2 linked regions of the Homo sapiens genome follow. The protein of the gene in region 1 purifies or fractionates together with the protein of each later gene. This does not show direct contact. Each region holds a gene or a part of one and is shown on either strand. Other genes may lie near its edges.

The links.
Region 2: the proteins of CCNL2 (region 1) and CNTN1 purify together in Homo sapiens (affinity purification with mass spectrometry; 3 studies listed by BioGRID and IntAct, with this or other methods). This does not show direct contact.

Annotation. Positions count from the first base shown.
Region 1 is NC_000001.11:1,396,536-1,400,742, reverse strand, and holds the start of CCNL2 (cyclin-L2), read left to right. Parts: upstream 1-1,407; 5' UTR 1,408-1,436; coding exon 1,437-1,724; intron 1,725-2,071; coding exon 2,072-2,146; intron 2,147-2,324; coding exon of another isoform or gene 2,325-2,400; coding exon 2,401-2,510; intron 2,511-4,207. UniProt on the Homo sapiens protein: Involved in pre-mRNA splicing. May induce cell death, possibly by acting on the transcription and RNA processing of apoptosis-related factors.
Region 2 is NC_000012.12:40,933,439-40,936,938, reverse strand, and holds part of CNTN1 (contactin-1 isoform 1 precursor), read right to left. Parts: intron 3,479-3,500; coding exon 3,379-3,478; intron 3,243-3,378; coding exon 3,061-3,242; intron 159-3,060; coding exon 34-158; intron 1-33. UniProt on the Homo sapiens protein: Contactins mediate cell surface interactions during nervous system development.

The sequences.
Region 1 (4,207 bases):
GTCACAGCTCAGGGAATGGGCAAGCAGCACCAATGAGAAACCAGCTGTGTGGTGGGGTTTCCAGAGAAGAGGAAATTCCTTCTTTCCTGGAGAGCGTGCAGCTGTAACTCACAGACGAGACATCCCTGAGCTACCAGCCTGGGGAAAGAGGACATGAGTAAAGCTGTAACCATACCGTGTTACCCATAACAGGCGGTGAGGAGAGTGGGTTTTGGTTGGCACTGTTTGAGCTGCAGTATCAAGTCATGGCAGAGCTAGTGGACAGCTGACCTGGGGGTGGGGGTGAGGAGCAATGGTGGCTTCTGAATTTGAGCCCGTCTGAGCTGGGCAGTTACTGGCAGCTCAGTGTGTGAACCTGCAACCACTCAGGCCTCTGCTGCCCTTCCCTCTTCCTGCCTCACCGTTCCCTGCCCCACGCAGGCTTCCCCACCATCCTCACCCGTGGTCCTGTACTAGTCCTGGCAAAGGTTCCGGTAACTGCAGCAACAGATACCTCCTGCCCCTCCTGCACAGCTGTGGTCGATCGCAGGACAGCCGCAGGTGATGAAAAACCGTGAACCCAGGACGGGCAGGGCGTGAGACCGCCTGCGGGAGGATCAGCGATGTCAAGACGTTACAAACGCACGAACCCCCTCGCCGTCTCCCTGGCGTTTGTGAGGTCCTGTCCAAGCTCCTTCACACGTAGATCACCGGGCCTCGCTCCCCCGACTCCTTCCGTGGGCCTGAACCTTGAGGTACTTAGGCCTCCCCACGCTGGAGGGGCTCTGTAGGGACGTCGAGGCCACGTTTCCAGTCATCCCTCCACCCGTCTCTCCCCAGGGGCTGAGTGTTGAAGGCAAGACTTTGCAGGAGTCTGGCGTTAATACGCATCCCCAAAGTCTGGAGTCGATAAGGACTGAAGACACGACGCCGACGGCGGCCGGGGGACACCGGGCATGCGCGTCTCATCCAGGGGGAGGCCGAGCGGAGCCTCTGACCCTGCCCCGCGCCCAGGGTTCAGCAGTGGGGGTCGTCCCGCCCCAGATCCCACCGAGATGGCCCCCCTTGACCCACAGGCCTTTCGAGACGCGAGCTTCCGCGATCCGGGGTCTCTGTGCGAACGTGGGCATCTTGGAAGAGTCCCAGCCCCGCTCGGGGCGCACAGGCAGGCGCTCTCAGCACGGCACCCGCGCCTCCGCTAGGGACAGACATGCTTCCGGGTCGGCCGGCACCGCGGAGTCCCCTGGGTAACGAGCCCGCCCCACCCGCGCCAGGTTCCGGCGTCGGCGTTAGGCGCGTTGCTGACGGGCAGGTTATGTAGCCAATTGCGGCTAGGCGGCGTCGCGCTGGTCGCGGGCCGAACCAATGGCACGCGACGGGGCGGGGCGGTGGCGGCCGTGGAGCTTCGCGAGGAGCCGCCCTGAGGGAAGAAGCCGAAGGGGAGTCGGCGGCACAAAATGGCGGCGGCGGCGGCGGCGGCTGGTGCTGCAGGGTCGGCAGCTCCCGCGGCAGCGGCCGGCGCCCCGGGATCTGGGGGCGCACCCTCAGGGTCGCAGGGGGTGCTGATCGGGGACAGGCTGTACTCCGGGGTGCTCATCACCTTGGAGAACTGCCTCCTGCCTGACGACAAGCTCCGTTTCACGCCGTCCATGTCGAGCGGCCTCGACACCGACACAGAGACCGACCTCCGCGTGGTGGGCTGCGAGCTCATCCAGGCGGCCGGTATCCTGCTCCGCCTGCCGCAGGTGAGGGCGCGGCCGCGAGCCTCCGGCCCAGGTAACCGCTGGGGCGGCAGCCGCCTTTGTTGGCGGCGAGTCGGGCCCGCACCGCCCCCGCCTAGACCCCGACCCCAGCCCCTGCCCCGACCCCAGCCTCGGCGCCATTCCCTAGCCAGCCCATGCCCCTGACCCGGGGCCTCCCCGCCCGCCAGTGCGCTGGATCCCGAGACGGCGGGACGCGAAGAGCCTTTGTGGACGTGGGAAGCGTTTCAGTGTTTGGTTCTGCGTGGGGAGTCCCACGTTACTCGATGACTTTCGGCCGCGAAGGCTTTGAATGGTGCGTTTGAAAATACGGAAACTTTCTTCTACTCTAGGTGGCCATGGCTACCGGGCAGGTGTTGTTCCAGCGGTTCTTTTATACCAAGTCCTTCGTGAAGCACTCCATGGAGGTAAGGCTTCCTCCTGCACTTCATTCCCAGCGAAGTATGTTGAGGGTAAAACGGTTTGTTACTTTGCCCGGTTACTAAGGGAGTGAGTACTTGCCCCCCAGTCTGAGCTCTGTGCCGGAGGGTTCTGTTTCTTGACTTTTTTTTTCCCCTGGGTGCACCTCCCTTTTGGTCTGAATAGCCCTCAAGCCTTTGGCGGCCGTCAGGACGCCGTGGCTGGGGACAAACATGGGCGTGTTGCAATGCTTCCGCTTCAGCATGTGTCAATGGCCTGTGTCCACCTGGCTTCCAAGATAGAAGAGGCCCCAAGACGCATACGGGACGTCATCAATGTGTTTCACCGCCTTCGACAGCTGAGAGACAAAAAGTGAGTCAGTCAGAGCTGTCTAGTCTATCATAGATGCCTATTTTCTTTATTTCTGATTAAGTTACAGTAAGGCTTGTATAACACAATACAGGCCTGAGGCTCTAAACCTGTGGGATATTCATGAGCGCAGTCTCAAGCTCCACCAACAGAGCCTGCTCAGAGGCATCAGTAGATGCGGTTTAGTAAGGGCAGGGGCTCCAGTGAGGACAGTGCGCTGTGGCGGGTCGCGCTGGGGCTGGCTTCCTGCTTTACCCATGTCAGTGCACGGCCCTGCTGCTGCTTCTGTCCCACAAGTTTCTGAGTGCTCTGGAGCAGGGAATCTTAATCTCAGCACTATTGACATTCAGGCTGGATAATCTTTTTTTTCCTCCTGAGACAGGTTTCCTGTTGTCCAGGGCAGAGTGCGGTGGTATGATCATGGCTCACTACAGCCTCAACCTCCTAGGCTCAAGAGTTTCTCCTGCCTCAGCCTCCTGAGTAGCTGGGACTATAGGAGCACGCCAACCATGCCAGCTAATTTTTATTTTTTATTTGGTAAAGATGGGGTCATGCTGTGTTGCCCAGGCTGGTCTCAAATTCCTGGGCTCCAAGGATTTGCTGGCCTTAGCCTCCCAAAGCACTGGGATTACAGATTTCAGCCACCGCATCTGGCTGGGTAATCTTTAGTTGTAGGGGATTCTCCTGTGTGCTGCAGGATTCAGCAACATCCCTGGTCTCGACTCACTGGATGACAGGAGTACCCCACCTTAGATGTGACAGCCAGAAATTCTCTCATACCAGATGTGGGAGCTCACACCTGTCATCTCAGCACTTGGGAGACTGAAAAAGGAGGTTTGCTTGAGGCCAGGAGATTGAGGCTGCAGTGAGCTGTGATGTCACCACTGCACTCCAGCCTGGACAACAGGGTGAGGCCCTGTTTCCAAAAAAAACGAAAGTCTGTTGATGTTGCTTCATGGCCCTGGAATAGTAAAATTTCTCCAGCAGAGAACCGCTGCCTCTGACCTTAGCCCAGGGTTTATGCACCTGAAGTTAATTGAAGTCCTTTAGAAAACACAGCCTCTGGCCGGGCTGGCCTGTAATCCCAGCACGTTGGGAGGCCTAGGCAGGTGGATCACCTAAGGTCAGGAGTTCGAGACCAGCCTAACCAATATGGTGAAACCCTGTCCCTATTAAGAACACAAAAATTGGCCAGGTGCAGTGGCTCACGCCTGTAATCCCAGCACTTTGGGAGGCCGAGGCGGGTGGATCACGAGGTCAGGAGATCGAGACCATCCTGGCTAACACGGTGAAACCCCGTCTACTAAAAATACAAAAAAGTTAGCCAGGCGTGGTGGCGGGTGCCTGTGGTCCCAGCTACTTGGGAGGCTGAGGCAGGAGAATGGCGTGAACCCGGGAGGTGGAGCTTGCAGTGAGCTGAGATCGGGCCACTGCACTCCAGCCTGGGCGACAGAGCAAGACTCCGTCTCAAAAAAAAATAAAAAAAAAATTAGCCGGGTGTGGTTGCGGGTGCCTGTAATCCCAGCTATTCGGGAGGGTGAGGCAGGAGAATCGCTGGAACCGGGGAGTTAGAGGTGCAGTGAGCTGAGATTGTGCCATTGCACTCCAGCCTGGGCAACAAAAGTGAAACTCTGTCTCAAAAAAAAAAAAAAAAAAAAAAAAAACAGCCTTGCCGAGCGCAGTGGCTCACGCCTATAGTC
Region 2 (3,500 bases), on another chromosome or scaffold:
CTCAGGAACAGCAAAGCACTTGAACATACATACCGCATATCCATTTTTCAACCATCGGATTGTAGGGATGGGCTTTCCTGTGGCCACACAAGGCCAGTAGAGATCACTGCCTATGTCCACCTCTGTGTCATTGATGTGTTCTACCCACTCAGGGAATGCTAAAAAGTAAGGAACATTGTAAATGTTAAATGAAGGGCTCAAGATCCATCATAATCTCCAGAGTATAAATATTACATTTAGTTAACCTAATTCTGCAGAATACATCAGATAGTGTATGCATCCTGAACTCAGTAATAGGCCTTGTCTTTGCATAGGCTTAACCTACGCAAATCCTGTATTATTACAGCAGGAGGTAACTATAACTCAGCCATTATTTTTCCATTTGTAAATCATGTTTTGTTGAAAAGCTGAGTTATAATTATTACTAAAATAACTGATTTTTTTCTGCTCATAACATAAACCTTTCAAGTCTGTCAAAATGATAATTGAGGTTTTAAAGAATTACATCTCAATTCAATATGATACCATCTCTTAACATTTTGGATAAAGACTCAGATATTTTTCCCACTCCCTCAGGTATACATTATCTTCATTTTGATGGAACTTTCAGCTAGTGGCCACGGTAACATCTCACTTTGGCGCTAGAAAAATGACTTGGACACCTAAATATACTCTTTCCATATTAGAAACTATATACAGTAGCCATGATTGGTGAAATCCATGCATTGGTAAAATTGATCTCAGTCTCATTCTTTAGTCTGATCTACTTGATAGCTAAAGAGACATCCATAAAAATGAGAAAATGCTAAAAATTTTCCAAAGAAAAAATATTTTTAGAGAACAAGCAAATAAACAATTTGACAGTCTTTTTGATTATTTCAGTTATCTAGTCCAAATAAATGCAGATAAATAAATTAATACAAAAAGGAAGTAGGAAGAAAGAATCCTGAGTGGAGAATAATATTTAATTTTCTTTGAAACTGGGAACTTGTGTTAATTTTATGGCAAAAGCAATATATGCATCTTATAAAAAACATTTAACAAGTAATAAAATACTAGAAATTTAAAAACTAGAAAACATTTTTATCTCACCAAATACCATCAACATTATACATTATAATGTATACATTATACATGTAGACATATGTACACCTATATATCTTAAAGCATATATAATCTTATTTAGTACATGTTTTCACTCATCATTATATTTGTAACATAGGGAGATATTTTTTAAACTATTGGTGGATATGTTCATTGTAAGGGAGAAAGGTTTTATTTTGTATACAATCTTAGCAATACATAATACAGGAATATCAGCACCCTTCCTGTCTTGGCCTCACAAAGACAACACAGACATTTTCTATTACATCATGTAATGAATAATTGAATTGGCTTGACACAGTCTATATATGGCTTAATTATGTAACCTTCTAGTGATGTGATCAGACCTAAAGATAATACTTAGTATGCTGCATTAGTAAAGAATAAATAATATTTCTCTTAAATTACCTTCTGTAAATATGTGCTCTGTCACCTTGGTTCTTCTAAGGCTTTAGATATTAGACAGTTCAAAATTTTACTCTGTTGAGAACCTGGAGTGTAGTTTTCTTAATATGTTGAATAAAAACAGGTCTATAAGCTTTAGAAACCTAGTAGAAAGTGGTGGATTTATTTCAAAAGTTTAAAGGACCTTACCTAGTATTTTCTTCCTTTTAGGAGGCCATTTCATGCAGACTTGATATGTATTGCATTAATGTTACTGTGGCATTGGACATACGAGTCTGAAGTTCAGAGTAAATGTTTGGGTTAGAGCATTCAGGGTACAGAGTGTGTCTAAAGCCATGATCACGAGTGGGATCATAAATGGAGTGACTGAAATGGAGATGGGGTTCACAGATGGAACCCTGATCACACCAATGTTAGAAAAGTATGGAGTTGAAAGGCAATGGAGAATGAAAGATTATACAAGGAAATTAATAACAAAGTAGGTTGCAGACATGAAGTGCAGAAAGTGAATCATGAAGAAGGGAGGGACCAACTGTGGCAACCACTGCTGTTAGATCAAAAAAAAGTACAACTGAGAATTGATCATTAGCTTTAGCAATATGGAAGTCTGTGGTCATGAAAAGAAAGGTTTCTGTGGAGAGGCAGAGATGCAAATCATGTTGGAGTGCAATTAAGAGAGAAGAAAAACTGGAGATGGAGACAACACTTTTAGAGAGAATGCGTGAATCTGTCAAATTTTTTATTCCTTTTTGGGAGAGACGGGAGAAAGTGAAATGGGACAGTAGCCAGAGTTAAAAACGAATAATATTGTGGAAGCCCTCGATGTTTATTCACTTGTGACCTGCAAAGTTCATGTTGTGGAACATTATAGAAATTATTTCAGTCTGGAAAGTTTCCAGTGTGGCCTGAAAAAAAATCTGTCTTCCCAAATGTAAGTTTATTTTAATGTGTGAAAATCAAAGGTTTGTGCCATGATAATTTTGTCAAAAAAAAAAAAAAAGATTTCTTAAACCAGTGGTTCTCAAAGTGTGACTCCAGGACCAATATTATCAGCATCCTTTGGGAATTTGTTAAAAATACAAATTCATGAGCCCCTAACAGACCTCTGAATGAAAAATTCTGAGAGTTTGGCCCAGCAATCTGTTTTAACAAGCCCTCCATGTGATTTTGATGCATGCTTAAGTTTGCAAACCACTGACTTAAACTAAGTCATAACACATAGCTTCTTCTATAAATAAAAAGATACTGAAAAAAGACAGTGATAAAATGAGTAAACAAACTACATTAAGTGTATATTCTGAAAATTACCAATAACACTTCTATCAATCTATTGCTATTACCTATGGTTCAACTGGTAATAAGTTCGTAACTTCTATAACTCATAGTTGTGACTTCATTAGACATATGAGAAATATTTTATCTTTCTCCATGATGTAACATGCATCACTGTTTTTAAAACCATTAATCATTATATAGTAGTTTTTCATGTATGGAAATGGCTCTAAATAAGATACTGATGAAATTTATACAAAATTAAAATAATGTATCTACCTTGAACATAAATTCTTGCTTGATGTTTATCCTTTCCTCTAATGTTCTCAGCCTCACATTCATAGATGCCTTCATCTTCTAGCTGAATATTGAAGATCTTAAGAACAGCCCCAGAGGTGCTAATCTCAGCAGTGCTTGGCATTGGTTCTAGAACCTTCCGCCATCGGATATCCGGAACAGGACTTTAAATAGAAGATACAAGGGTTAAAGTTTCACACACTTAAAAGACAATTACTTTATGTTTATAGCTAAACAATTATTTATTTCCTAAAATGGTACTATTTCTATATATATTAATAAAAGTGTCAGTATACTTACTTTCCAAGTGCAAAACATTCTAAGGTCACATTTTGGCCCATCAATGCATATACATCCTTGAACTGAACTACAATATCAGCAGGATATGGTTTTGTTGTTCCTAATATTAAGAGAAACACAAA